Homo sapiens: one gene and its partners. The protein of the gene in region 1 purifies or fractionates together with the protein of each later gene. This does not show direct contact. Each region holds a gene or a part of one and is shown in the gene's direction. Other genes may lie near its edges.

The links.
Region 2: the proteins of SIRPD (region 1) and TMEM131 purify together in Homo sapiens (affinity purification with mass spectrometry; one large-scale study listed by BioGRID and IntAct). This does not show direct contact.
Region 3: the proteins of SIRPD (region 1) and ZNG1A purify together in Homo sapiens (affinity purification with mass spectrometry; one large-scale study listed by BioGRID and IntAct). This does not show direct contact.
Region 4: the proteins of SIRPD (region 1) and METRNL purify together in Homo sapiens (affinity purification with mass spectrometry; one large-scale study listed by BioGRID and IntAct). This does not show direct contact.
Region 5: the proteins of SIRPD (region 1) and SIL1 purify together in Homo sapiens (affinity purification with mass spectrometry; one large-scale study listed by BioGRID and IntAct). This does not show direct contact.
Region 6: the proteins of SIRPD (region 1) and PROS1 purify together in Homo sapiens (affinity purification with mass spectrometry; one large-scale study listed by BioGRID and IntAct). This does not show direct contact.
Region 7: the proteins of SIRPD (region 1) and CLPTM1 purify together in Homo sapiens (affinity purification with mass spectrometry; one large-scale study listed by BioGRID and IntAct). This does not show direct contact.

What each region holds. Positions count from the first base shown.
Region 1 is NC_000020.11:1,554,751-1,559,699, reverse strand, and holds the start of SIRPD (signal-regulatory protein delta isoform 1 precursor), read left to right. Parts: upstream 1-1,994; 5' UTR 1,995-2,046; coding exon 2,047-2,119; intron 2,120-4,949.
Region 2 is NC_000002.12:97,755,211-97,759,039, reverse strand, and holds the end of TMEM131 (transmembrane protein 131 precursor), read left to right. Parts: coding exon 1-147; intron 148-1,656; coding exon 1,657-1,941; 3' UTR 1,942-2,704; downstream 2,705-3,829.
Region 3 is NC_000009.12:172,156-176,427, reverse strand, and holds part of ZNG1A (zinc-regulated GTPase metalloprotein activator 1A), read left to right. Parts: intron 1-643; coding exon 644-730; intron 731-3,061; coding exon 3,062-3,158; coding exon of another isoform or gene 3,159-3,162; exon of another isoform or gene 3,163-3,939; intron 3,940-4,255; coding exon 4,256-4,272. UniProt on the Homo sapiens protein: Zinc chaperone that directly transfers zinc cofactor to target metalloproteins, thereby activating them.
Region 4 is NC_000017.11:83,085,649-83,089,920, forward strand, and holds part of METRNL (meteorin-like protein isoform 1 precursor), read left to right. Parts: intron 1-4,272. UniProt on the Homo sapiens protein: Hormone induced following exercise or cold exposure that promotes energy expenditure. Induced either in the skeletal muscle after exercise or in adipose tissue following cold exposure and is present in the circulation.
Region 5 is NC_000005.10:139,191,636-139,195,907, reverse strand, and holds part of SIL1 (nucleotide exchange factor SIL1 precursor), read left to right. Parts: intron 1-4,272.
Region 6 is NC_000003.12:93,893,449-93,897,720, reverse strand, and holds part of PROS1 (vitamin K-dependent protein S isoform 2 preproprotein), read left to right. Parts: intron 1-1,029; coding exon 1,030-1,145; intron 1,146-4,272. UniProt on the Homo sapiens protein: Anticoagulant plasma protein; it is a cofactor to activated protein C in the degradation of coagulation factors Va and VIIIa. It helps to prevent coagulation and stimulating fibrinolysis.
Region 7 is NC_000019.10:44,958,146-44,962,417, forward strand, and holds part of CLPTM1 (putative lipid scramblase CLPTM1), read left to right. Parts: intron 1-3,817; coding exon 3,818-3,930; intron 3,931-4,272. UniProt on the Homo sapiens protein: Involved in GABAergic but not glutamatergic transmission. Binds and traps GABAA receptors in the endoplasmic reticulum (ER).

The sequences.
Region 1 (4,949 bases):
ACTTGCAATAAAAAGCTTTTCTTTTCTCAAAAGCCTGGTGTCACAGTATTGGCTTCTAGCACATCAGGCAGCAACCCCCTTTCACTTGGTAACAAGTGGATAAGTGAGGGTATAGAACATGAGTCCCTTCCTGGTTTGACAAACTGCTTAGATGATGGTACCATATACAAAACAGGCATGGTGTGGGAGAAGATAAGGTTTGTGAGTGCAGATCTGAAACTCAAACTTGAATATTTAAGGTATACAAAGAGGCCAGGCTCAGTGGCTCACACCTGAAATCCCAGCACTTTGGGAGGCTGAGGCAGGTGGATCATCTGAGGTCAGAAGTTCGAGACCAGCCTAACCAATATGGTGAAACCCTGTCTCTATTAAAAATACAAAAATTAGCCAGGCGTGGTGGTGGGCGCCTGTAGTCTCAGCTACTCGGGAGGCTGAGGCAGGAGAATCACTTGAACTCGGGAGGCAGAGGTTGCAGTGAGCCGAGGTCATACCATTGCACTCCAGCCTGGGCAACAAGAGCGAAACTCTGTCTCGAAAAAAAAAATACATATATATATATATATACAAATGAAGATGTCAAGAAGGTTGCAGAATATACAGGTCTGTATCATGGGCCCAAGATTACTCAGCTCTTAGGAGGTGCGTTCAGGATTCTAGCCTAGATTATATCTGATTCCAAAGCTGGCACTCTTGGATACTGACCCGTGAGTACTGACTCTCCAAGGAACTTAGAGTCTAATGAAAGGTGAGAAGATTCCTCAGAGTAGGGGAAGGGGAGGATGATGGAGGCTGGAGGAATGTTCCTGTCTAGTTCCAAGCAGGGGCCATGGATAGGAATTCCTTTGTGGAATTCATCATTTCAGAACAACGGGATAGGATGATGACATCACAAGGGGATGGGGACTCTTGTCGTCTCAGAGAGAACGTGCCAGCCTGGCTCTGCTTTCTTTTCCTAGAGGGTCTAACACCTCTCCCGGCCCTGACATCTAGCTGGTTCCTGAGGAGGAGGCAGAAGTCATGAGGAGGCAATGGGGAAACAGCCATGGCAGCCAGTGCCTGCCTGTGGATGCTTGGACATTAAAGGGTCACCAGCTGAGTGTGGGCTGAGTGTCCCTGAACACAACATTTGTGCTTAGGAAGAACCCATTCCAGAGCTGAGAGAGAAGGATGCCAACATGCTGCTTCCTCCCTCTTTCTGGGGGCATTTCTTCTGCCCCTCCAATCCCATCTCTGAGAGCTGGTCCCAGGTCCAGCCCAAGCAGGAGAGGCAGCCCTCACCTTCCCAGGTGTTTGTAGGCATGTTACTCTCCCTCCTAGAGAGTGTTCCCCGCAGCTCCGCCTTCCCTGCAGGCCTCCTCCATCCTCTAAAGCACAAATCATCACCACCTGCACAACTCGAATGTCTTTCTCAGCCATGCCTGATTCCTCTGCAGGAAGGAAAAAGGAAGCAGTTCCTGGTAGTGTATGGAGGGACCCACAGAAAAGCCAAGAGCCCACAGCAGATATTGCTTGTTTTTTACCTCTAACTACTCTGGAGTGCAAGAAAGGGCATCCATTGTAAAGTCCAACTCTTACCAAGTGGGTGAGGCTATAGACATCTTGTCTCTTTCTTCAGCTGTGCAGCTCAGACAGGCCCAGATGTTGAGCTCATGCAGGAGCTAGACCCATACCTGCGCATCATGTGGATGAGGCCTTTGTCTAGCCTATGTGTCTGAGGCTCCTAGATAGGCAAAGGCCATGAAGTTGGGGAGAACCTGTGAGATGGGATGAAACTCAGGAAGGAGTATAAGGCTGTGGGTGTCAAGCCCCCCAGCCCCAGCAAAGCTAAATACTTCCAGCAGCAACTTCCTAGCTTGAAGCAACCTTGTCTGTTCAATTTTATAATCACAAAGGAAAAAGTGTCCCAGTCCCCTGGCCTTTCCTCTCATCACAATCCCCTTCCTCTGACATCACAGAGGCAAGAACTGTCTTCTCTGCTCGGAGCACTGAGTCGAGGGCATCTCCAGGACAGGCATTCAGGCAGAGCAAGCTCCAGGTTTCACCACAATGCCCATCCCTGCCTCCCCACTCCACCCACCTCTGCCTTCCTTACTGCTGTATCTGCTGCTTGAACTGGCAGGTGAGTGGGGCCTCAGTGTATGTGTGTGGTGGGTTCTCCCCTCTGCCTGTTTAGTGAACTCTCCCTCACCTGTTCCCATAGAATTTCTTTTGGGAGGGTTTTCTCCATCTTATCCCAGAACAGGCAGAACTCAGAAGACTACACTGGGATGGTCCCCAATTCTGACAAAGTCTCCCGGTGGCCATGTCTGTTGCAAATCTCTTTGCTCAGGTAAACGACTCACACCTATGGTCACAGGGCGGGGCACAGCATCCATCACAGCTCTCACCCTCCAGCCTCTGGAGGGTGTAATTTATTTTATTTTATTTTTACCTTTACTTATTTTTTTGAGACAGGGTCTCACTCTGTCACCTAGGCTGGAGTGCAGTGGTGCGATCTTGGCTCACTACAACTTCCACCTCCTGGGCTCAAGTGATTCTCGTGCCTCCAACTCCCAAGTAGCTGGGACTACAAGCACGCGCCACCATGCCCAGCTAATTTTTGTCTTTTTTGTAGAGATGGGGTTTCACCATGTTGCCCAGGCTGGTCTCAAACTTATGAGCTCAAGAGTTCCACCTGCCTCGGCCTCCCAAAGTGCTCGCATTATAGGCGTGAGCCACCACACCTGGCCCCTGGCAGATTTTACACTTCTTTCTGTGAAATTCAGTTTTTTATTTCTCTGTTGCCACTGCATTTGGCTGCTCTTAAAAAGTACTGCAAACTGGGTGGTTTAAATTACAGAAATTAATTTTCTCACAGGTCTGGAGACTAGATATTCAAAATCGAAGTGTGGGCAGGGTTGGTTCTTTCTGAGGACTGTGAGGTTGAATCTGTTCCATGTCTGTCTCTGAGCTTCTAGCAGTGGTAGCCTCAAACATTTGTTGGATGGCAGGTGGCACCACCCTCCCTGTATCCTCACATCATCTTACTCCCATGTATGTCTGTCTCTGTGTCCAAATTTCCACTTCCTATAAAAACATCCACCATATTGGATTAGCACCCACCTCAATGACCTCATTTTAACTTGATTTCCTCTGTAACTCTATTTCCAAGTAAGGTCACATTCTGAGCTACTTGTGGTTAAGACTTCAACATATATTTCGGAGGCATACAATTCAACTCATAATAGCCTCAACATGAAATTTTAATAACTTAGATATATTCTTTGTTGGTTTATGTACTGCATTTATATCTGTCTGTGCTTTATACATAGGAAGGGTAACTATAAAGCTTCCTCTTTTTATTCAATGGAGAGTTAAGGATGACTAAAAATATTTAGGTAAAAGCTAACTTAAGATACTTAAAGCTAGTAAAACTCACTTGAATTTTTAACTGTACTTATTGGGTGAGGTACACAGACTGTAAGGTGACTCCCAACTATCCCACCCTTATGTAATCTCAGTTGTGTGTGACATGCTTCTATCTGATAGAATATGGCCAAAGTGATGCACTGTCTCCCCCTTGAGTATGTTAGGTTGTGTAAGATCTATCACACTAGAGTTTTTTTGCAACTTCTGGCCTTAAAGAAGCAAGGAGCCATGTTGCAAACTGCCTGTGAGAAGGCCCACATGGCAATGAACTGAGGGAAGCCCCTAGAAGTTGAGGGCCTCAGTCCTACAACCACAAAGACCTGAATTCTGCCAACAACCTGAGTGAACTTAGAATGAACACTTCCCCAGTCAAACCCCCAGATGAGAACACAGCCCAGCTGGCACCTTGAGTGGAGCTTGGTGAGACCTTGAAGCAGAGAACCCAGCTAAGCTATATCTGAATTACAAATGGACAAAAATTGTGAAATAATTAATATGTGTTGTATTCAGCCTCTAAGTTTGTCGTAATTTGTTATTCAGCGATAGAAAAGGAATATACCGAGTAAGATGGCAAAACCATTCAAAATAAAGTCCTCCATTGTTTTGTAGAACTTATTTGTTTTTAAAGGTGTACAACTTGATGGTTTTTTAAATTTTATCTTGGTTTTAATTGACAAATAATAATTGTATATATTTATGTGGTATAATGTGATGTTCTTATACATGTCTACACAGTGAAATGATCAAATCAGGCTAATTAACATATCCATCACCTCACATACTTATCACTTCTTTGTGGTAAGAACATTTAAAATCTACTCTTTTAGCTAGTTTGAAGTATGCATTAACTATAGTCACCATGCTGTGCAATAGATCACCAGAACCTATTCCTCATGTCTAACTACAACTTTATAGGCTTTGACCAGCATCTCCCATTTCCTTGTCCAACTCTCCACCACCCCAGACCCTGGTAACAACATTCTATTCTTTACTTCTTTGAGTTTGACTTTTTTGGATTCCACATATAAGCGACATTCCACATATAAGCAAGATCATGTGGTATTTGTCTTTCTGTGCCTGGCTTATTTCACACCATAATATCCATGGTGTCATAAGTGACAGAATTTTCTGATTTTCAAAAGCTAAATAGTATTCTACTGCATGTTTGTGTGTGTGTATGTGTGTGTATAATCACATTTTTATTCCTTTATACATTGATGGGCACTTCAGTTGTTTCTATATTTTGGCTATTGTGAATAACTGCAATTTTGTAGAACTTATCTTGTAGACATTTTGTGTATCTGCCATGAACTCAATGTCAGTGTGGCTTGTGTGCTACCCAAGAATACACAAGAGCAATTAAGTACTAAGGAATAAGATTTTGTTTGGTAGAATTGATCATTGACAAACCAACCATTGTAATATCTAAGATAATCCTACACTCCAAAAACCAGTTGTGACCTTTTATGGAAAATAGCAACTTCATTGAGAATGCATGCCTCAGTGTTTACTCTGGGAGAGGTGAATGAGTGGCCTTTCAC
Region 2 (3,829 bases), on another chromosome or scaffold:
CTCGGATTATCTCGATCGTGCAATCAGGCCTCACAGAGGAGCTGGAACGAGTTTAATAGTGGCCCTTCATACCTTTGGGAGTCGCCAGCGACAGATCCCAGTCCTTCCTGGCCAGCCAGTTCCGGCTCCCCGACCCACACAGCCACAGTGAGTACTTGGGGCTGGGGCTGGGGCCTGGACCTGGCCCACCCACTCGCCATCTGCCATTGCTGTGACATGGATGGCACTGACATAGTTATAAACAACAAACAGCAGCATCAGAGGGGTGGGTTAGTACTTTTATTGTCTCCATTGCTTTGTCTTCATATTCTGTCAAAATGACTGATCGATGTTCTTCAGAGCCATTACAATCAGGAAGTTTTAGGAAGAACAACTGAACAGCTATGGGGTTGGTCTCTGGAGTCCCTCCTAATAGCTCAAGGGCATTTTCTGCCTCTTCCCAACCTGTAAATGGACCACAAGGGTGACCATAGGCCTATGGCAGGTTCAGATGGTTGAGGGAAGCCTTCGGCATCTGTGCAATGCAGCCACTGGCCACCCAGGAGCAAGCTAGATACTGCATTTACTTTGTTGCTGAGAAGCACCTGTCTCTTAGGTTAGATTTTCAAGAGTGCATTTGTTTGCTTCTTGGCTAAAGTCTTCTGCAAAGACCATGCTGAAAAGAGTATTCTTGCCAAGGAAAATAATTAGTGGTTTTGGCTTCCACAAAATTATGACAGAAAAATATGACCCCACTGTGTTTGCCTCTTTGTTCTCAGAGAAACTAAACATGCAAGGTTTTATAACAGATATTTCAACTTTACAGATTCCAAAGGTTGTCTTCATGTGTAATTATTCAGCCTTATGTTTTAAAACCACCTTAACCATTCTTTAAAAGAGAAGTCAGCAAACTTTTTTTTTTTTTTTTTGAGACAGAGTCTTGCTCTGTAGCCCAGGCTGGAGTGCAGTGGCACAATCTCGGCTCACTGCAAGCTCCGCCTCCTGGGTTCATGCCATTCTCCTGCCTCAGCCTCCTGAGTAGCTGGGACTAGAGGCGCCCACCACCACACCCGGCTAATTTTTTGTATTTTTAGTAGAGACGGGGTTTCACCATGTTAGCCAGGATGATCTCGATCTCCTGACCTCGTGATCCGCCCACGTCGGCCTCCCAAAGTGGGAGTCAGCAAACTTTCTATAAAGAGTCAGATAGTAACTATTTGAGGCTCTGAAGGCCATGCTTCACCACTGCCATTGCAGTGCACAGGCCGATGGGCGCAGCTGTGTTCCAATACAACTCTCTTTACAAAAGTAGGCAGAGCTGGATTTGGTCCACAAGCTGTCTTTTTTAAAATATCACAACTAGCCGGCATGATGGCTAGTGCCTGTAATCCCAGCACTTTGGGAGGCTGAGGTGGGAAGATCACTTGAGCCCAGGAGTTTGAGGCTGCAGTGAGGCATGATCACACCACTGCACTCCAGCCTGAGTGATGGAGCAAGACCCTGTCTCAAAAAAATCAGAAACATCTGCTCAAATACATATATATAACATTTGTTCTAAAGTAAACAAAGTAAGAGGAATGCGTGCCCCAGCCTCATCTTTTCTGTAGCCTTACCCCCTTACCCACTTGACCCTCTGCCTGCCGGGCTCAGTGCTGGACGCTTTCTGTTTTGTCGCAGTCGGTCCTCGGTAACACCAGCGGCCTGTGGTCCACCACTCCATTCAGCAGCTCCATTTGGTCCAGCAACCTTAGCAGCGCCCTTCCCTTCACCACTCCAGCAAACACGCTGGCAAGCATCGGCCTCATGGGCACAGAAAACTCCCCTGCTCCTCACGCTCCCTCCACCTCCAGTCCAGCTGACGACTTGGGACAGACCTACAACCCGTGGCGGATATGGAGCCCCACGATTGGAAGAAGAAGCTCGGACCCTTGGTCTAATTCGCACTTTCCTCACGAGAATTAAATTAAGCAAAAAACAAACAAACATAGTGGGCCCTCGTCTAGATCATGATGTGCCAGTTTCTGAGACATCTTTTTAAGGCTCTTACTGCAGCTCCCCTCCCCACCCTCCTCTTCTTTGCAAAACAGACCCAAGCAGGGCAGGCTCAGACCACTCGCTTCTTTCAGATCTTTCTTGCAATTATGATAACATGAGATTTGCTGTTGTGCTTTTAGAGAAAAGTCTGGACTCAGCCACAAACTCTAATAAGACCTGTACATCTGAGAACCTTTCCCGTTACTGCGTTTTCACCACCTGTCTTCCCCATGCTTTATTTATCTGTATGAACACAGATTTGACATTACAGCTAAGGAAATAATTTGAGTTGATTCAGAAATCCTGGCATGTGACAATTTTGTTAAATTACCAAGTTTGGTTTTTAATAATTTCTCAATATTATGCGCCAAGATCTAATTTTAAAACTGTATGAGGACTTTGTGCTGAAAATAGAGTATTTTTTTAAAGTAAGGCTGTCTTGGTTTAAAAGCAGATTACAGAAATGTAAGTCAACTTAAGAACGGTGAATGAATGTAAAAACATTCAGTTGAGACCATATGCATTTTCTGTGCTGTTTGTACTTGAGGTATGTAACATTTGTATACCTGAACTTATTTTAAAGATGAACTGAAATGCACATAGCCAAGTCTTGAGATACAAGATTGAATGTGTATTTCTTAAAAATACAACTTTGTGTTGTACTTTGAAATAAATGATGCTTTTTTCAAAAGCCTTGTTTTGTGGTTTTTTTTACACACAAGGTGTATTTATTAGGATTTTCTCACACCAAAGTAAACCACCTTATCCTTGCCTTACTCTGTGGAGCTGACAGGTTAAGACGGGGTTTGCCTTCTCATTGCTGGAACTTCCTGCAGTCTAATGGAGTTCTGTGTGTTCCCATGGCAATCATGGAGGGTCCTTGATCGAAAACAACTTGAAAGCCTGTTTGGATTCATCCAGTAAGCGTTTTCCCTCTGCCACTATCCTAAAAGGCCTCATAAAAAGCAGTAATTGCTACCATTTATTGAATACTGACTCTGTCAGGTACCTGGCTAACACTTTGGGATATGTTGGGTTACTCCATTATACTTGAGGAACCTGGCTGGGCAGTGCTGGCTCAGAGGCCCCAGGTCAGGCTGACCGCAGATTCACATGGCACCCACTGTGCTGCCTTCCTTCTGGTCACAGTCACCATTCTCAGGAACAGTCTGTGTCCAACTCACCACTGCATGTTCTAACACTGGCCAACCTTTACCAGCCTTCAGTCTGAGGAAGTTGTATGGTGAGAGGAAGACAGAAAAGGAGAGAAGCGGGGCACAGAGGGAAGACAGCAGGGGCACAGAGGGAAGACAGCAGGGACTCGGGCAGCCTGGGGGAGGGCTCTGGGGGCCACCTGTGGGAGCTTACCAGCAGCAACACAGCATGCAGTGCCCCTTTGGCCCTTTCATTTCTAAATGATGGCTTGGAGACAAGGGGGGATGCCTTGGGCTATGGCACAGGGGCTGGGGGTACTAGAAACAGCTATTTACCCACTGGTATTAAAATGCTTTAGCAGTTTACCTGCTAATACAGCTATACCCCAAAGCCAGGCTGGATGGAAAGCAACCTGTGTGCTACTGAGGAATGGAGCCACAGGTGGCAGTCACACAGGGTGCCATGTAGAAATACCAGCTGGGGCTGCTGGAAACGGAGCCTTGGTGCAGACTGGAAATGACTTAGCCAAGCCTGTAAGGTGCAGTAGTAAAGACTACACATCTAAATTTTATTTTTTTTCTTTTAACTAGAAGTGTGTTGACCCTTTTCCAATTTTAAGACTTTCAGCTCCTCCATGGTCCCTGTTGAGTTCACACAGACA
Region 3 (4,272 bases), on another chromosome or scaffold:
CAAACCAAATGTCCAACAAAAAAAAAAGATAAAGAAATGATATAGTCATACAATTGAACTACAATACTATGCAGTTAGGATTTTCTTTTTTTCCTCTATGAATTTTAGTGTGTACGGTTCACAAGACTATTTTTTTTCTACTGGAGATTGACATATTGGGTTTTATATGCCACCTGCTGGATAAAGTTGGTATAGCTTTATGAATTTATCTTACTGAACATTCTGTCCATTGTTGACACTACCTGGCTCTATTCCCCATTTCATAAAAACTTTTATAGATTGTTTAAAGCATACTATAAGTAGCCATATAGTCAGCCTGAAGTTGCGTCTTGTTAATGTTGAAATAAAAGGTCATTATAAATAAAAGATTGTGTGTAAATTTTAGGGAAGGTTAGGCTAGGTTGAAGAAGCTGTTTCAACTTGTAGGAGTGTTTGTAAATATTTATAAAATTTTATGTCTACATAAAGTATTTTGCAACAGGTTTCGAAGGATGCTTTAATCTTATCCTCTAGGATATTCTATGCTAAAATAATATATGAAAAATAGCACGCAAATTCTCAAAAACGTTAGGATTCTTTATATGTTTTTTGTATCTTTAAAATTATTTTGAATTTTTTTATTTACAAAAAATATGTTTTATAGGTGCTGGGAAGACAACACTTCTGAACTATATTTTGACAGAGCAACATAGTAAAAGAGTAGCGGTCATTTTAAATGAATTTGGGGAAGGTAAGTAAAGTTCAATAAATGTCATGTTGCAAGATTTTGTGTGACTGTTTATTCCTCTGGTGAATTGATATTCCATATTTAAAAATGAAAATGCAAGGTATTGTATTGATGTGGATAGCTTTAGAAAAGTTGGATTAATTTCTGTTAAGATTTATATGGGTTGAGATACTGAAATTAGTTTTAATAAAATTTTATTTTGTATAACTTTGGAATTCTTATTAACAGAATTAAACTACATTTTTACATGAAATAAATGACTCCAGAAGTAAAAATCTAGACATATGAAAAAACGTTTATTTTTTATTTTATTTTATTTTTTTTGAGATGGAGTCTCTCTCTGTCGCCAGGCTGGAGTGCAGTGGTGCAATCTCAGCTCACTGCCACCTCTGTCTCCTGGGTTAAAGTGATTCTCCTGCCTCAGCCTCCTGAGTAGCTGGGACTACAGGCGTGCGCCACCATGCCCAGATAATTTTTGTATTTTTAGTAGAGACAGGGTTTCGCCATGTTGGCCAGGATGGTCTTGAGCTCCTGGCCTTGTGATCCACCCGCCTCGGCCTCCCAAAGTTGCTGGGATTACAGGCATGAGGCACCATGCCTGGCGAAAAAATGTTTTTTTTAGGAATTAGGAAAGCACTTTTGTATGGACTCTATTGCAACTCATGAAAAATACTTGAAAATGCTTCTGTTATTAGTTAACTTTGTTTAATGTTTATTATCTGCAATGCAGTTAAAACTCAATATTTTAAAAATAAAGGTAAACATATGGTCTTTATCCTCATGTATTTTAAGTTATCTGTGAAAATAAGTGTGCTTAACTTCTCAACTGAAATATTAAACTGTAGTCAAAAAAATAGCTCTAGACACAATACTTCTGTTATCTTTATAGAAGTTTTTCTTCATAAGTATGAATTGTAATCAAAGCTTACTTCTAGCCAAAAAACAATATCTATTAAACGATTTCTTTTAAAATGTACTATTTTTTTTCAGTTGTAAAAAGTAAAAGAGCTAGGTTTTATGAACAGGATGGGAAGCCAGTTATATTCGATTTCTGGTTTTAATAAACGAAAGAGAAAAGTGCTTTTTAGGCAAAAATCCTGAGATTTCTAATAACAGACTGTTTTTTTCATCATCTTATTAAATAACCTATTGCACACTGATTACATTTATTCTTACTATTTTCTTTATTTTTTCCTGGATCATTTTTGCAATTTTATTTTTCACAGCATTCTCAATACTTTTCTTCATGTTTCATTAATGTTCTGTATATAGTCCAAATTCTGTAGCAACCTCTTTAGAAGCTCTTTATTAATACCTAGCTGAAATATAAAAAATATGTAAGTGTAAAACTACTCGATTTTATGGGAGCTCATTTGCTTAGTGGGCTTTTAGAACTTCACTGTTTGGTATATTTCTTTATTAGAGGAAAAGTAAAACATTTAAAATAATTCTTATAGATAACAAGCATTTCAAATGTAGTTTATTCTTTCTTAAGTAAGTATTGCTAGGAAAATATGTGAATTTGACTAAAAGTTTAGGTTTTTTTTTTTTTTTGAGATGGAGTCTCGCTGTGTTGCCCAGGCTGGAGTGCAGTGGCGCAGTCTCGGGTCACTGCAACCTCCGCCTCCCGGGTTCACGCCATTCTCCTGCCTCAGCCGCCTGAGTAGCTGGGACTACAGGCACCCGCTACCACACCTGGCTAATTTTTTGTAATTTTAGTAGAGATGAGGTTTCATTGTGTTAGCGAGGATGGTCTCGGTCTCCTGACCTCGTGATCCGCCCGCCTTGGCCTCCCTATAAGTTTAATTTTTAAATGAGCACGTGGTACACTGGCCAAAAACCTTCCTCAAGATGAACTAGGGTTTTTACTCATTGGGAATATTCAGCAGTTTGTCTAACAGAAACAATTTAGAAGAAGAATGAAAAGAAAAAGATAGATAAGGCAGTCTCTTAAGAGGTTGAAGGGCATACAAAATCCAGTATATAAAACATACTGGTCTATTTAGAAAGTTTACCCTGGACAAGAAAAAAATGCCTTCAAGATAGCTACTTTATTAAGAAATGGGGGTGGCCAAGTAAGAGGCCTAAGGAGGAAGTAGGTATGTTTATCAGTTTAGGATGTGTCTTTTTCAGGGCTTAAGTCATCTTAAATAAAAGCTAAAATAATGTAGTGTACTGTAATTTAGATATCGAGGCTGCATGAATAAAATGAAAGAATATAAGTTATAAAATGCAGTTTCTGCTTTAAGATCTCCATTATTGAGTTATCCTCATCTTTGTTTTTTTTTGGCTAATGGACATAAGCTAAAGAGTGCTGTTTGTTAATTATTCTAGGAAGTGCGCTGGAGAAATCCTTAGCTGTCAGCCAAGGTGGAGAGCTCTATGAAGAGTGGCTGGAACTTAGAAACGGTTGCCTCTGCTGTTCAGTGAAGTGAGGAATGTGTTTACTGTGTACATGGTTTACTAGAAATGTTTATTGATTATATTTCCAGCTTTAATTTTCTTGAGTAATTTAACTGAATTTACACAGTTTGCTTCATTGTATTTTCAAACAAATAGAAAATAAACTTATTAGGAAGCATTTTCTTAAAGTGTTTCTTGCTGTCTTTTCTATCTGCTCTAATGTTTTGGTCCTTTTATTGAGTTTTTATTGCTTTTGATGTCAGGGCTTATTTAATCTCTAGTGCATGAAAGTCTCATATGTAAAAAATGATTATTCTGAATTTAATCTGTCATTGGTCATACTTCTAAGTGTTCAATCTTATAAAAAAAATAAATGACTATCAAAAAAGAGAAAAACCTTACGTTATGTTCTACTAGTTAAGTTTTCAAGGACAGTGTTCACTAGTCTACCATAGACCCTAGAAGAGTTACCCAACACATAGTAGCACTCAAATATTTGTTGAATGAATTATAAAAATGACTACTTGTACTGTTAATTTTGTGTATTCTAGTGAATTAAATCTCTTCGGCATCATTTACTCCCTTAGGTATTTGACTTTGTGTCAAATGTTTTGGCAAGGATAAAATTATAACAGACTTTCTTGAACAACCAAAATATAATCTATTAAGGATTTTCCTTCACTTTTGATAAAATAAGAAAAAAGGAAATTAAAACCTTGCATCCTAATGTAAAATAGAATTATATGGTGTTTAATATCAGTGTCTCTTTAGCTATTATATTAAACTACTATAGTTAATACATTTTATCATTATTTTGTATGTTGGTTTTTAAAAATTTCATAAAGCTATAAAAAGATACTTGGTCAGATAAAGTTTCCTCTGCTTTTAATTTTGATAAAGTATTATGTATATGATTTCTTTTTACCTATTATATATATGCATCTATTGTTTTCTCACTGGTAAATATGGGACGGACATTTTGTTAGAAGGTTAGAAGTGAGTTAAATTTTCACATTCCCAAGGGTACTTTTGTCTCGGGTTGTTGAATATATTTTAAAGTGTTTATAATAATCACTTCAAAATATTTAGGTAATTAACTGTAAATTATGTTTTGGTATTCTCCAGGGACAGTGGCCTTAGAG
Region 4 (4,272 bases), on another chromosome or scaffold:
TCGGGCGGCATGGCCTTGGCCGAGCGGGGCCTCTCTCCCTGGAGGTGTGTCTGGGGAGCATGGTGAGCATCCCCCTGTGGCGGCCGGGCCAGTGCTGGGTCGGACGCGCCCCCATGCTTGTGGATCGTGTAGCACCTTTGAAACGGGTGCTTTTGCCATTCAAACTGCCCTGGGAATTGGCTGGGTGTCTGTGGTGTCGGCTAAAGACCCTGAAACGTCCATTTTTGGGTGGGAGCTGAGGCTGGCTCAGCCCTGAGCGGTGCTGAGCTGTGACGCCCAGAACATGGGGCCACCCCCGTCCCAGAGGGGTCTTGTGGGTACGATAAACAGACAGCTTCCCTGTGTGGCCGGCAGGGAGTGGAGGTGTCACGTGGCGTCTCTGGACGCCTGTGCTTGGGGGAGAGGTCCTTCGTGGAGGGCTGTGTTGGTCTCTAGAAAATTCTGTGGGTAGACACCAGGAGGCATGAGGTCCTGGGAGGCACCTGTGGGCCGTGTGACCTCCATGGTCTGTGTGGCCTCGGACTCGGGTGTACAGACTTCTATCCTGAATGGGAATCCACATTTTTGTGTTCTATGTTCTTGGCCTAGATTACTTTTCATCTCTCTCTGAAATCTCTCCCAGGTAGACTGGTCATTTACAGAGTGAGTGTAGGACCGTCTGCCTGGAGTCCTGACTGCCCCGAGTCCCAGCTGGCCCATGAGCTCAGACTGCCCCTTGGGCCTCAGCACCCGCAGGGCTGGACGCTGATGTAAACTCAGCTGTGCTGTGGTTGGTTGCACGCTGGATAAAACTTTAACCACGGCGGCCTTTATCTTGGTCACCAACAGTTATGGTGGGTGGGAGACCTGGGGGAGGGGGTACCAGCCTTGCTCTGGGGGCCCTGGAGAAAAACTCACAATGAGGCGAAACCTGGAGAAATCCAAGCTCCAAGTTCAGTCTTTCTAACCGGAGGTAGAAGGTGCCGGGCCAGATGTTAGGAACTTGCAAACATTCTTTCTGCTGATTAAAGTGGTGATTGGTCTTGAAGACGTTGGGCTGCGGGTCACATGCTCTGTGGCCTGAGCTTTGTTCTGCTTCTGGGTGAGATTCTTAGAGAGGCTGTGGTGTAGTCCGTCCCTGCCACGCACACCTGGACGTCCACACTGGCACAGGCCCGATTTCTACATTTCCAGGGGAAATTCAATGGTTCTAGTTGTCAGCTGGGGCGACCCTTACGGAGCCTGTGCCCTCACCTTTGGGAACAGAGACTTTGTCTCTCCTGCCTCTGGGGGTGGGGTCCGAGGCCTACAGGCCCTGTGTAGGCTGGGGCGGTGGGTGGGTTTGGGAGAGGCATGGGATGGTAGGGGCTGAGCTGCCTTGGGGTCCTGTGGGGTTGCAGGGAGGCAGCGGCCTCTTGTGAGGAGTGACTTGAGCCCCAAGGGACCAGAGCAGGCATTCGGCGGTGGGTCCTCGCTCACCCTCCGTGTGCCTCCTGGGCCTGTGGGGTCCTGCGCAGGTCTGTGGCCCCAGTACACGTCAGGCTGGCTTGGGGTCCCAGAACTTTGCTGTGTCCTGTGAGGCAGGTGCTTGGGTTTCCTTGTTTACACTTGGTGACCCTGCGGCATCTGCTTAAACCGAGCCTGAGGTGATTTCCAGTGCCCTGTGGGTGGTGGGTTGCTTATCCGAGGAAGCAGACATGCAGGGATCCTCGGAACTGACAGGGGCCCAGACTCTGAGGTTCACCGGGGGCCCCCGGAGCTGGGACCCACGCCTGGCATCTCACGGGAACGGGCACAGATGCAGGCCCCTCCCTGGGCTGAGCACCTCCAGGGCCCTCACGAGAGGCCTCTCCTATCCTGATGGGGTGGAGGGGCAGGAGGGATCCGAGGAGGCTGATACCTCTCCTCTCCCCAGGGTATTCGCCTTTCATCAGGGGACGGGGGCCCCTAAGCCTTTAATGCTGCAGGAATGGGTACATAATGTGGAATGTCGGTGCCGGCCGTCTGGCAGCAGTGACGCCATCCCCTGGGCCAGGCCGGCTCCCCAGCACTCTCCGGCCAGCGCCGCGGTTTCCCTTGCCTCCCGTTCCTGCACTTGCTGTAGCTGCGAGAGCCGACGGAGGCTGAGCCGGGCAGCGCCAGCCCCGCCGAGCCTGAGGTGAGCCTGAGCCTTTGGCCTGGCAGCACGACCCACGGGAGGTGGACGAGCTCGTCTGTGTGTCAGAAGTTCCAGTTTGTGCTGACTCAGGAGGACAGAGGCTCCGTGGGCTGGAACCCCGGACAGGAGAGGGTGTGTGAGCCCCGTCCCCTGCCCAGCCAGGAGGAAATCCCCCGCTCCGGTGGGTTTCGTTGGTGTGATCGTGGTGCGTTCATGCTGCATAATCGGCTTCCTTGAGTAAACTGAGACACGCCGATGACCAAGAGTTGGCCGGAACACGGGGGCAGGCTGCTCCTCCAGGGGTACACACTGGGGGCCAGGCGGGAGGGGACCCGGCCCCAGGACCTTGGGATTTGGCTGACTACGGGCAGGACCTCTCAGCCCTGCACCAGCCGCCTCTGCAGGCGACACGGACGCCTTCCTTGGATGCTGAGGAAACCCCGCAGGATGGGGGTGGCAGAGAGTGGTCAGGTGCAGCTTCCGGCCGTGCCCAGACCTGTGCCCAGCAGACCTGGCTGAGGCCGTGTGGGGCTGCTGTTTGCAGGCCAGGGAATCCGGGAAACGGGCACCGTTCAGTGGCTTGGGGAATGTGGGTGGGGGCTGTCTGGTTCTGGGGTACACAGACCCGAGACAGTCCAGGCAGGTCCCAGGATTCCAGTCTGTTCTTCAGCTTCTCCCAGGGCTGTGTGTCAGATGCTCCTGGCTTGGCCACATCTGTGCTTGGGGTTTGGGGTGCAGGCTCTGTGTAAGGCCCCCCAATGCAGGCCCCAGTGAGCAGGTGCCCAGGGCCGGGCAGCAGCATCGTGGACACAGGCAGTGGGAGGGGAGGGGATGCTGCCTTGATGCTGATCATGAGCACGTGGTGCCGTCCCTGGCTCTCCAGGACGCCGGAGTCCTGCAGCGTCTCAGGGGCCTCAACGCCTCCCCCCTTTAAAATCCTGCCCCTGGCTGAGCCCGTAGGTGAATGACCAGCTCGGCGGGCGCAGAGCCCCTGCCGATGAGCCCCCTCCAGGAGCCTCAGAGTTTGGAGAAGTCCTTGATGGGTGGGAGGGATGGGTGGAAAAGTGTGGAAGATAATTCTCATTATTTCCTGGAAGTAGAGGAGAGGGGCTGATTTTTCCAAGGCGTCCCATCTCTCGTCCATCTTTGGCTTCCTGCTTGGTGCCTTCTCTCCGGCCACTGTAATTTTCATTTTAACCATCTCTGGGCTTGTGGAGAGGAAGGGTGTGGCCCCCGCCAGCTTCCTCACCAGGAAGAGGGAGGGAGAAAGGGAGGCAGGGGGAAGGGCAGGGGCTATGGGGCCAACACCCCCGGGGCACCCCAGCAATGGACTGCAGCCTGGAGTGCGGCCGCAGCGCGACGGTGATGATGGTGGCCTTGAGGGGAGCCTTGGGAGCTCAGCCTTGGGTCCTCGAGCCCACTGGAGCCCACCCTCCACCCCTACCCACTGCTCCCTGTTCTTGGCTCCTCTGAAAGCACCTTATCCCCGTCACCGGCTCCTCTAAAAGCAGCGTGTCCCCCCGCTACCCCGTCACCACCTGTGTGGGAGACCCAGTAATCGTGGCCACAGAGGTTTCCCGTCGGAACTGTGTGAGTCCCTCTGGCTGTCCTTACCTGGGCAGTCCTGCCGGACCGGTCGGTGTCTGTCATTCTCAGCCTCTCCTCGGAACCAGCCGGTCCTGCCTCTCTACTTAACACCTGCCGTGCAATCTAAGTCCCCGCAGCAGCGTCCCCAACCCCACCCTGCCGGTCCCTCCCACCCTGTTCATGCTAGCTCCTGAGAGACCTGCCTGAGATGTCCACACCCCAGCCCTCCCCCTCCGAGGAGGATGGACCAGGATTCCAACCCTTTGCCGACCCTCCCCACCGCCCTGGAGACGAGGTGCAATGTGTCCGTGAGCAGCGCGTTCCGCAGCCTTTATGAGCCTGGCTCCTGTTAATAATTGTCTCCCGATTGTCTCCCGGCGTCCACCGGCGTCCACCCTGCATTCTCCGTGAAGGTGACTTCTGCTTTGTAAAGCTCAGAATCAGAACAGGGAGGTCTCCAGGGTGCTCCTTACGAGCTCAGCTGTCGTTGGGTCGTCTCCAGAGGCTTCTAGCAGGCGAGGCTGCAGGCACTGACCGTCCCCGGCCCC
Region 5 (4,272 bases), on another chromosome or scaffold:
CAGCCTATATATATTTAACCCCGAATGGCATGGGTAAGCAACCTTGTCACCTGCCTTGTCTTCAGATGAGTTAACAGTTCTTTTGAAGTGGAAATAACAGATTTTTGGAGGGTGGTGAACATGAGTTTTAATTCTGAGTCTACCACTTATTAGCCACATAACCTTGGATAAGTTACTTCACCTCTGGGGCTCAATGTACCACTACATAACAGTGGGAATAGGGCCGGGCATGGTGGCTCACGCCTGTAATCCCAGCACTTTGGGAGGCCAAGGTGGGCGGATCACGAGGTCAGGAGATCGAGACCATCCTGGCTAACACGGTGAAACCCCGTCTCTACTAAAAATACAAAAAATTACCCGGGCGAGGTGGTGGGTGCCTGTAGTCCCAGCTACTCAGGAGGCTGAGGCAGGAGAATGGCGTGAACCTGGGAAGCGGAGCTTGCAGTGAGCGGAGATCACGCCATTCACTCCAGCCTGGGCGACAGAGCGAGACTCCGTCTCAAAACAAAACAAAACAAAACAAAAAAAACTGGGAATAATATTTACTTTGAAGGGTGGTTAAATGACGTATTACACATGAAAGCTCTTGGGACATAGGAATGCAATAAATGTTTTCACCCTCAAAGAATGAAGATTTGCCGTTAATGAGAATATTCAAAAGAACATGAGAGTCTCTGGCCGGGTGCGGTGGCTCACACCTGTAATCCCAGCACTTTGGGAGGCTGAGGTGGGTGGATCACCTGAGGTCGGGAGTTCAAGACCAGCCTGACCAACATGGAGAAACCCCGTCTCTACTAAAAATGCAAAATTAGCCGGGCGTGGTGGCGCATGCCTGTAATCCCAGCTACTCGGGAGGCTGAGGCAGGAGAATCACTTGAACTCGGGAGGCGGAGGTTGCAATGAGCCGAGATCATTGTGCCATTGCACTCCAGCCTGGGTGATAGAGCGAGAGATTCTGTCTCAAAAAAAAAAAAAAAGGCTCTGAAAGGAAGTTGTACCTTTTTCGAAATAGGTGGATTCTCTTTTTCACATACTTGTGGATTCATACTCTGACCTGCTCAGCCTCCCCCTGTCTTTCTTCATTCATTTTCTGTCCTTTCCTAAGTGAAGTTTTGCTGCAGAGGCTGTCTGCCAGTCTCTTGTAGTAAGCCTCTTTTCAGGAGAGCTAATCTGAACTCTCTTACAATGCTAGTCCCTTAGTCGCTATTCCTAGGGATTTTTTTCTGGGGGCTCCAGATGGTGCTTGGATCACGCTCTGTAGCACAGCCATCTCTAACTCCTGGATTTGGTGTCAATTTGGAGACCCATCCTGTGGAGCTAATCTTCTCTCTTTCTGAGCAAGGATGAATACTTTATCCTTTTCTGAGTCGGCCTTAAACTGCAAACCTTAGTCTTCTACAGCAGAGAGTCTTGTATTTTAATTATACGTAGACTAAAGACGGAATAGCATGCCCTTTTCTTTTCTTCCTTTACTTTCACCAAGGATTTCACTGCTGAGTAGGGGAGTAGGAGAATAGCCTGTTGCCATTCAGAGTGAGGCCTTGGGTAACCCCTGATTCCTAGCATAAGCAATAACTGAGTTCATCTTTGGGACAAAAACCTTGTAAAAGATTCGGGCTGCTCAGACACATGTGGAGAACCTCAAGCTAGGAATTTTCCTAGCTTGTGAGGAGTTTACACCTGGCATTCTTACTTTTGCAAATTTGTACCCAGAATCCAGTAGCAACAAAACTATATTCAGCCCAGACTTGTAGTTCCTTCAGGTTCCACCAGGCAGCTGTAAGACATGGCTGTGATTATGCTGGCTGGCCATGTTTGCCTTCATCCTCCTAATACTGCCCTTGGCTTTGGTATTGAGAAGGAAGTGGCATAATCAATTCATGAGTAACATTCTCTGCCAAAGTGGAAATCAGGGGCAGAGAGTTGTGAGCATAGGACTAGACAAATGGAAAGAGCCAGCCTTGCCTCAGGAATGCTGCTAAAGTGCTGTGAATCCGTGACAACCACTGTGTTTCTTGGTGTCACCTCATTTGTGAAATGGGAATGCCTTCATTGATCTCTCTCTTGAGAAGAGTGGACCACCATGCCAGTTTTCCCAGGACAGAGGGATATCCGTATGTGGGACTTTTAGTGCCAAAAGCAGGAAAGTCCGGGGCAAACCAGGACAAGTTAGTTACCCTACCCATGACCATTATACAAGTTAATGAACACTGTGCCCTTAGGGTTCATCTAAGACTCAACCCTTTGGGTTCATCTAATTATTTTTCAACCTTTTGTTCATTATCATATTTTGAGACTTTTTTTCCCTTAATTGTCTACTCCCCAGTGGAATGTTTTTTTGAGAGGGAGTCTCACTCTGTCGCCCAGGCTGGAGTGCAGTGGTGTGATCTCTGCTCACTGTGGCCTCTGCCTCCTGGGTTCAAGTGATTCTTGTGCTTCAGCCTCCTGAGTAACTGGGATTATAGGCGCCCACCACCATGCCCAACTAATTTTTGTGTTATTTAGTAGTAGTTTTTGTGTTTTGCCATGTTGGCCAGGCTGGTCTTGAACTCCTGGCCTTAAGTGATCTGCCCACCTCAGTCTCCCAAAGTGCTGGGATTACAGGCATGAGCCATCGTGCCCAGCTACCCCCAATGGAATTTTAATACCACAGATGTACTGTGTATCTGTTTTTGTATTGTGGCCCTTTGGATGGCCACAAACCATTGTAATATCTAACTTTTTTTCCCCCAAGAATCAATTTTCACCCCTTCTGGGCTGTTACTGCACTCACTGAGAATGCATGGTCTTATCTGATATTCTTTCTTTAATGTAGTCATCAAGGCCAGTTTTTTATCCAGAAGAAACAGCTAGTACCACAAGCTTTTTCGTTTCCTTTCCTGTTTTTTTTTTTTTTTTTTTTTTTTTTTTGAGACTGAGTTTCGCTCTTGTTGCCCAGGCTGGAGTGCAATGGCGTGATCTTGGCTCACTGCAACCTCTGCCTCCTGGGTTCAAGTGATTCTCCTGCCTCAGCCTCCTGAGTAGCTGGTACTACAGGCATGTGCCACCACATCTGGCTAATTTTTTTTTTTTTTGGTAGAGACAGTCTCACTGTGTTGCTCAGGCTGGTCTTGAACTTCTGGGCTCAAGCATTTCTCCTGCCTCGGTCTCCCAAAGTACTGGGATTATTAAGTGTGAACCACCACACCCAGCCAAGTTTATTCTTTATTGTTTTAATTTTCTTCCAGTCTTTGGATTTTGAGGTGGTCCATTTATCATCTGCTTCTCTGGTGCCTCTTGGACCTTCCATCTTCACAGCTGGGGCTGCTGTGTTGGCCCAGGTGTCCCCAGACTGGACATCGGAACCTTTGGGAAGAGTCTGATGTTTGGCCCTTGTCACATTTCACATTTCACATCTACAGAGAAATGGGGAAGGGTATGTTTCTGAGGTCTGCTCATAGGCTATGTTGTGACTGAGGAAGTTCTTGATCATCCCTTTTGGTTACCACTTATCATCACTGGCAGAAAAACATCAAAGTGGTCAGTGAACTCATCTCCACATCTGGCTACTTCCATCTCTGCAAGTAGTTTGCTTCTTCAGTCTTGTGATGGGAAAGAGATCTAGAAACTGGAAGAATAATCTGAGATACATCCTAAAGTTCTGGTGAGGAAAGCTAATGCCAATGGACTTTTTTTTTTTTTTTTGAGATGGGGTCTTGCTATGTTGCCCAGGCTAGTCTTGAACTCCTGGGATCAAGCAATCCTTCCACCTCAACCTCCTGAGTAGCTGGGATTACATGCATGTACCACCATGCCTCACTCGCCAGTGGATTTTTTTTTTTTTTTTTTTTTTTGAGACAGCATCTTGCTCTGTTGCCCAGGCTGGAGTGCAGTGGCACAATCTCGGCTCACTGCAACCTCTGCCTCCCAGGTTCAAGTGATTCTTCTGCCTCAGCCTTCCGAGTAGCTGGGACTACAGGCGCCTGCCACCACGCCTGGCTAATTTTTGTATTTTTAGTAGAGATGGGATTTCACCATATTGGCCAGGCTGGTCTCAAACTCCTGGCCTCGAGATCTGCCGGCCTCGGCCTTCCAAAGTGCTGGGATTACAGGCGTGAGCCACTGTGCCTGGCCCTTTTTAAGAGGGTCTCACTCTGTTGCCCACGCTGGAGTATAGTGGTGTGATCATAGCTCATTGCAACCTCCAACTCCTGGGCTCAAGTGATCCTCCCACCTCAGCCTCCCAAGTAGCTAGGACCATGGGTGTGCACCACCATGCCTGGCTAATTTAAT
Region 6 (4,272 bases), on another chromosome or scaffold:
CATAAAAAATGCCTAAATAATGATTTAACTAAGTATACATACATACCTCTATAGCTGTTGCCAAAACAAAGCTGTATATGTCCAGAAAAATGTCACATTCAATAATATGCAACCTACTTGGTAATAAGCTAGTTGGCATTTGTTGTAATTTTGGTACGTTACTACTTAATTGAAATGCCATGCTGTGTGAACATCTATTTTGTAATTTAGTCCTTTATTATTTCTGTATTTGGTGTAGTTACATATCACCGTCTGCCTTGAAATAGATTTATTAAAGTTTTAAGGGGAAATAAAATGTTATTTCTGGGCCTATATTTAATATAGTGCTATGTACGTAATTCTCCTCAAAATATCCTCATATGTGTTCAATAATTTGTATGTTAAAAGCTTTTCATTTTAATGTTTGTTTTCACTCGTAGAAAAAAAATACTTGATACCATATGTGATGACTTTAAATAATGTTCTTGTAAATTCCTTGGAGACTATGAGATCTGAATTTATATTTATTTCCTTCATGTTTTCCAGTATTCCCTTTACTATCTAGATAGCACATTCTTGCTCAGAAAACTTTTGCTTAATAAATGAATGAGTGAATGAATGAGGTGCTGTTTATTGGTACATTAATTCTTACACCTATTTCTGACTTCAAATAAAAATAATTTTCAGACATAATTCATGGGAGATAATATACCTGACTGTTAATTAAAGAAATATATATTGGTTCTTGAAGAAAGAGTTTGTGTTTAGGACGAAAATTTGCAAAGGAAGTATTAAAGACAAAGATCGAAAGCCATGCACATTGAACGAGGCTTTAAAACACATGTATTCTTGGAGGTTATACTGATAGATAGACTATACAAGGAAATGGAAGATATGTATTTATTATTACCAAAAATATTCTTAATTATTTTAGTGTATTACAGATGATACATTAGTAACCAAACAAAAATGCATGACCTCACACAAACATTAAGCAATAACCTGTGCATTTTGATTTTCTTGTTGTTTATTTGGTTTCTTTTATTCCAGGTTGTTTCAGTGTGCCTTCCCTTGAACCTTGACACAAAGTATGAATTACTTTACTTGGCGGAGCAGTTTGCAGGGGTTGTTTTATATTTAAAATTTCGTTTGCCAGAAATCAGCAGGTGAGGAACCAATACCAATGATAATTTCTAGAGGTTAAGCAGATAAGGGCAGAAGAAAAGTGGCCGAAAAGGTTTGAAGTGTGTGAAATTGTATTACCTATCAGATAATGTAGTCATATTACCAATCAGATGACTTGGGGAAACCTAAAGTTAATTTACTCCTTCACACATGTAATTTTCATCCTAAAACCTTTTTGAGTCATTCTAGGCTGACTTTCCCCAATGAACATTTTACATTATTCCATATTATTCCTTTTGTAGAAAATGCATATTTACTAAGAAGCTGGGAAAGTAGATTTAATGTACTTGTGAAATTTCCATTATTCTTTACACATGTTATGAAAACCAGGTAATAAAAAATACTCAGTATTGCTTTTAGAATATCATTATATTCAAAATTATTAAGGAAAAAATTTAAACTTGCTTAAGTGGCATTTTAAAGACATATATTACATAATTTTAGTTGGCTGTCTAAATACTTTATCCATTATTATCGTACTTAGATTGAGTTCAGAAATGAAGTAAATGCTTATGTTTTTTAGTCATGATTCCACTTATTTTTATAGCAATGTTTATGATCCAATTTTTATTTTATTATATTTATTTATTTTTGAGACAGAGTCTTGCTTTGTTCCCCAGGCTGGAGTGCAGTGGCGCAATCTCGGCTCACTGCAACCTTCGCCTCCCAGGTCAAGCAATTCTCCTGCTTCAGCCTTCTGAGTAGCTAGGACTACAGGTGTGAGCTGCCACACCCAGCTAATTTTTGTATTTTTAGTAGAGACAGAGTTTTACCACGTTGCCCAGGGTTGTCTCAAACTCCTGACCTCAGGTGATCACCTCAGGTGATCTGCCATAATTGTACTTCAGTTATCAGATTTTCTCAGAAGCATACATTGCTGGAAGTAGAAGAAAGAAATTGGATTTTTTTTGGAATAATGAGAAGGCAAAATACTTGAGACAGATTATACAGTTCAAATTTTAAAATATTTTAATTAAATAAGCATGTATGTTTAGAACTTGATGTTAGATACATGAATGATTATTCATTAAATAATTCAACTAAATTCATAGACGTTATTAAAAACATTGAAAATTATTCTAAGATCAATAACTTACATAAATACTTAAGTAACAGTGCTCCTTCCACACTTTATTTCTGCCAATATGTGGTTTTTTCCTTTAACATCACAGAGCAACTAATATCTTCTAATGATAGAGATTGGAGAAAACTCTTCCCTGCTATGAGAATAATAATGAGAGAAAAATATTAGTTCTAGTAAATAACACTTTTAGGAATACAATTGATCCTCCAAATCCTTGAGTTCCTCATCTGTGGATTTAACCAACCTCGGGTAGATAATATTCAGAAAAAAACACAATGACAATACAATACAAAATAATACAAATGAGACACAATACAGTATGACAACTATTTACATACATTTGCATTGTATTGAGTATTATACATAATGTAGAGACGACTTAAAGTACGTGAGAGGATGTGCATAGGTTATATGCAAATACTATGCCATTCTATATAAGGGACTTGAGCATCTGTGGATATTGATACCATCCAGAGGTCCTGGAGCCAATCTCCAGGAGTTTGTTCATTTCTCACTGACGATTCATAGTAGTTTGATCTCTAACATGGGATCAGAATTGGACAAATTATTTTTTCCAGAATTTATTATTTATTTATTTTAAACTTTTCATTGAAATATAAAGTATGTACCGATATGTACACATTAGATTAAATGTATAGCTTGATGAATTTTTATAAACTGCCCCTTGTGTGATCAACACAAAGAATAGCTAGTGCTTTTATTTATTTTTGCAAATTTCTTGACGTCTGTTGCTCATGATCAAATACTTTCCCTCCGTAAATGTCAACAAATTCATTCTATTTTCCTGTTTACCATGCTTGTGAAAAAGAATGAATTGTTCCCCATTGTAATGAATCAATATGCTGCTGATATATTCCAGAAACAAAATATGCAGAACATGACCCTTTGAAACTATGATTTCAGCCTGATTTTACAAAGAAAAGGAAATTATCTCCATAATAGAATCAACTGCTGGAAGATCCTGAGCATACACAGATTTGGATTTTGGCAAGATAATATTGCTTCACATCAGCAAAATGCTCAGATAATTATGAAAGAGCATAGAAGTCCTTATTCCAAGCAAAATTGTTCTTTTTTTCATAATCTGAGTTCAGTAAATTCCTACTACATTGTTATCCATCCAACATACTTTACTCCACATTTTACCTCTTTTTAAATATTTCTTTGGAATTCTAAAGATGAAAACATTCATTTTGTCACCTTTTCTTTGTTCCATTTGAGGGAGATACGTGCCCCATTGCAAATGGTGCCTCTATTACTATTACTATTTTACTATATTGCGGTAAGAGTGTGGGATTCTGTCCTGCCTAATATAGCAATTATCTGAAGTCCAGACTCTTTAACTTAAATTGCCTTTATTTTAAGTTAGGTGACTAATAGTTATACACCTATTGTTCCTTTTCCCTGTTTGTCTTTCGTCAATCATGTGGATTTGCTAGTCCCTTGGAAACTTCAATGCTGATTCTCATTGAAGTGTTTTAAGGATACTGAATCAACACATGTTATTTTAAGTCCTGCATCCTAAGACTTTTCTCCCCTGTAATAGCTACATATATGTCTAGAGTCTTAATAGCAACAGATGTTGCCAGCACTCAGATACCCCCCAAACACATGGGTAGACTATGTCTTTTAAGTTTTCCTTCTGTGTATTCTACAACAGTGACTTATGCAACTGGAGTTTTAGGAAAGCTAATAGATATATTTTAAGTTTTTAAATTTTACCTTTCTTACCACACATGAAGGCTTAATGATGTCTGCAGTCATCCATGTGCCATCTTGTAGATCTCCACGAGTGATTCCTGACATGTGAAATTATAGGGAAAATATGCCTTTTGATGAATAAACCAACGATGAAATTGTAACACATTTTATGATCACTTATGGATACAGCAAAAACAAAAACAAACAAAAAAGAACAACAACAAAAAAAACTACCACTTCTTAATGTCAGATTATATAGTGTATAAAAGGCTCCAGGAGAGATATAGTATGCCTGATACTTA
Region 7 (4,272 bases), on another chromosome or scaffold:
AAGGAAGTGAGAGAGGGAGTCCCAAAGATACACGAGGGAAAAGCTTTTCAGGCAAAGGAGCAGCCAGTGCGAAGGCCCTAAAGTGGGAGGTGCCTGGTGTGATGAAGGAAGGGCGAGGAGGCTGGAGCGGGTGAGGGGAGAGGGGTGGCTGGGGACAGATGCAGATTATGCCAAGCTTTGGAGGCCATGGGGAGGACTTGGCCTTTACTCTGAGGGAAATAGGAGCTGAAAAGAGTGACTCTTTTTTTTTTTTTCTTTTTTCTGAGACGGAGTCTCGCTTTCTCACCACAATCTCGGCTCACTGCAACCTCCGTCTCCTGGGTTCAGGCAATTCTTCTACCTCAGCCTCTCAAGTAGCTGGGATTACAAGCACCTGCCACCACACCCAGCTAATTTTTGTATTTTTAGTAGAGACAGGGTTTCACCAGGTTGGCCAGGCTGGTCTTGAACTCCTGACCTCAGGTGATCTGCCCACCTCGGCCTCCCAAAGTGCTGGGATTTCAGGCGTGAGCCACCACGTCCAGCCTTGTGGTATAATTTAGATGGTATAACGTTCACCTGTTCTTAGGATAGAGTCCATTGGCTCCTGGTCCATTTATGCAGTTGTGTGGTGCAGCCATCACCACAGTCTGGTCTGAGAAAGCTTCTGTCCCCTCAAAAAGTTCCCTTTTACAGTCTCTGCTGCTCCCAATCCTAGGCAGCCACAGAGGTGCTATCTCTGTAATTTTCTAAAAATGTCTTAAACAAGGATCTAAACAACATCCAGTCTTTTGTGTCCAGCTTCTTTCATTGGGCATAATGGGTTTGAGGTTCATGTTGTTACATAGATCTGCAGTTGTTCATTTTTATTTTATTTTTTACAACCTAGGATCAGGGAAATTTGGCCTTTGGGGAAATCCTAAAGTACGTGCTCACAGTTGTTCCTTTTCACTGCTCAGTGGTAGTCTGCAGACATGACACAGTTTATTCTTTCAGTCCTTGAAGGATATTTGGATTGTTTTTAGTTTTTGTCTGTTGCCAATAATGCTGCTATGAACATTCATGTACAGGCTTTTCTGTGGCTGTATTTTGTTTCTTTTTTTTTTTTTCTAAGTAAGAGAGACAGGGTCTCCCTGTGTTGCTCAGGCTGGTCTCGAACTCCTGGGCTCAATGGATCCTCCTGCCTTGGCCTCCCAAAGTGCTAGGATTATAGGCATGAGCCACCACACCTGGCCACTGTTTGTTTTTGAGACAGAGTCATGCTCTGTCGCCTAGGCTGGAGTGCAGTGGTGTGATCCTGGTTCACTGTAGCCTCATTCTCCAAGGCTCAATTGATCCTCCCGTCTCAGCCTCCTGAGTAGCTGGGACCACAGGCATGCACTACCACACCTGGCTAATTTTTGTATTTTTATAGAGATGAGGTCTTGCTGTGTTGCCCAGGCTGGTCTTGAACTCCTGGGCTCAAGCAGTCTTCCTGCCTTGGCCTCCTGAAGTTCTGGGATTATAGGCGTGAGCCACTGCGCCTGGTCTGGCTTCATGTTTTCTGCCTCCTGGGTAGCCATTCAGGATGGGTTTGCTGGATTGTGTAGTAGGTGCACATATGACTTGTTCAATAACTGCCATATTTTCCGAAGTAGCTGTACTTTTACTTTCCCCCCTAGCAGCATACGAGGGTTCCTGTTTTTCCACATCCCTGCCAGCACTTGTGATTGTCTTTCTGCTGATAGCCATCCTAATAGGTGTGAAGTGACACCTCATTGTGGTTTTAACTTGCCTTTCCGTGGGAAGGTTCCCAGCCAGATTGCCCATCACTAACGGGTAAGCGAAGAGACCTGGGAGTCAGTCAGATGCAGCTTCAAATCCTGACCTGGCATCAAGTGTCCTTTCCTGACCCCAAATCAGCTCAGACCCATTGAAACCCATACTTGGACCCCTAAATTTCCCAATAGCTAGGCTGGCCTTGAGGAGGGGGCCTTGTGCCTGTCTGATTTCCCTTCCCCAGCCGACCCCCGCCCCATAGATCTCCTCATCAGAATGTGGCTTTCTCTGTCTCAGCCTAAGGGTCTCACCCAGACGACCCAGACGTCAAAGGGAGCTCCTCAGGGAGGCCTCTCTGACCACCCACTCCAAAGTGGATCCCTGTTCCCAACTCAGTTGCTGTCACTTCCCCCTGCTTGTTTTCCATGTACCATTTTTAATTATCCTGTTTACCGTTCTAGTGTGTTTCCTTCTAGATCCCCAGCTCTGGGTAAGCAGGGCCCAGATTTCTGTCTAAAATGTTCCAGTATTTTCACAACCTGGTCCACAGGTCAGAGAGGTGAAGTGATGTGCCCAAGGTGTCACAGCCAAGAACGGTGGGACCAGGACTATAGCTGAGGTCTGTTTGACCCTGGAGCCCCTCCAATGGTGTCCTGTGCTTTGGGAGATTACAGGAAAGAGCTCTTGCTGGTGAAGGGGACAGGAGGTGACAAGTGACACATTTAACACATGTAGCCCCTCTAACCATGCTCCTGGGACATTTGCTATCTGGTGGGTAAGGTGAATGGAGAAAACATTGCAGAGGAGTGGACTAGGGGCTGTGGAGGAGAGGGCCAGACACTGGAGCCTCAGAGGGAAGTGGGTTTGGGTGACCTGAGCGTCCGGGGTGAGTCCTTCAGGCAGCGGTGGCCACACAGGTGTTTATCACAGCCTTGCTCTGTGCCACTGGTGCTCTTGAGCTAACTGTGACTGTGATAGCCCTGGTCCTGCCTCTTGAAGGCTGATGGCTGAGGGGACAGCTGGGAGGAGGGGTGAATGAGAACAGGACTGGGGAGCTAGCAGGGTGCGTGAAGGGTGAGCAGAACATCCCCTTCCAAACCTGGCATTCAGAGAGTCTCTGATTGTGACCTTCTGTGTCTGAGTGAAGAGTCCTCCTCTGGGAAGCCGTGCCTGGCTCCCTTGCCTGCCCCCCTTCCCTTCTGTCATTCTGCTTCTGCGGTCCTTCCTGAGTGACCAGACAAGTGGCTTCACCTCTCTGAGCCTCCCTTTGCTCAGCAGCCGGATGGAGCTGGTCATAGTTTTGGCCTCAGGATTAGTGTGCTGTGTGCTGTCACAGACATGTCTTGTGGCCGTGGCTTATGGTAGCAGCTGATAGTCTGGTTGTGTTTTTCTGTGTCTGTCCCACCTGCTGGACCAGGGGCCCTTGGAGGGCAGGGTTGGCCACAGAGGGGGCCTCAGGAATGGTTTGCCCAGGGAAGGCTCTTTCAGCTAAGCCCCAGCCTTGAAGAATCTGGCACCTGCCATAAGACTCCTTCTGTTGTTGTCCCCAATAGCCACCTCCTTGCATCCTGGCTCCAGCCCCAGGGAACAGTGGACAGTCATCAGAATCAGACTGTGCCTCTAATCTTCTGTTTCTGCACCTGCTGCTTCTCTCACTTCCTCCTTTGTGCCACCAACTTGCTATGTTTTAGGTCTCAGCTTCAATGCCCCCTTCTCCAGGAAGTTGCCCCGAACCCTAGACTGGACCAGGTGCCTCTCAGGGCTCCTGCATTCCTGCCCCGTTCTGGACAGTCACTGTCTAGAGATGAATCTTTCTCCCCCACCGGGCTGTTAAACCCCAGGAGGACAGCAAAAGACTCTCTAGGTCACCACTGTCCCTAGGTCACAGAGGTGCTCTGCGAGTGTTTTCCTCCTAAAAGAAGAGGACCGCACCTTCCCAGGTGTTTTCACTGATTCATTCTCCAGTTATTGATAAGCACCCACTCTTTGCCCAGCCTGTGCCTGGCCTTCATGCATGATGGTGTCTAAGACAGCCCCCGTGTCCATTCTCCCTCCTTACCCTGGCCTCTGTCCCCCACAGGTGACCAGCAATGGCAGCATCGGGAGGGACCCGCCAGCGGAGACCCAGCCTCAGAACCCACCGGCCCAGCCGGCACCCAATGCCTGGCAGGTCATCAAAGGTGTGCTGTTTAGGTGAGCAGACGGGACTTGGGTTTGTTCACCGAAAACATTCAAATAAAAATAAGGAAGAAAGGAAAAGTCAGCTGATCAGCTGAGGATGGTGATCATTACTGTATGGTAGAGTTGCTTTTTTTCTTTTTTTTTTTGTATGATGGAATGTTTTCTAAACCTTTTTTTTACTCTGGTAAAACATACTGAAGTAGGGAGTCTCCCTGAACCTGTTCTGGTTTTTGGGGGGCTACCTGATTTGTGAAAAAATAAAAACACAAAAAATACTGAAGTAGTTTGCTAGGGCCCTTGTATCAAGTAATATAGACGGAGTAGCTTAAACAACTGAAATAGGAAATTCATTGT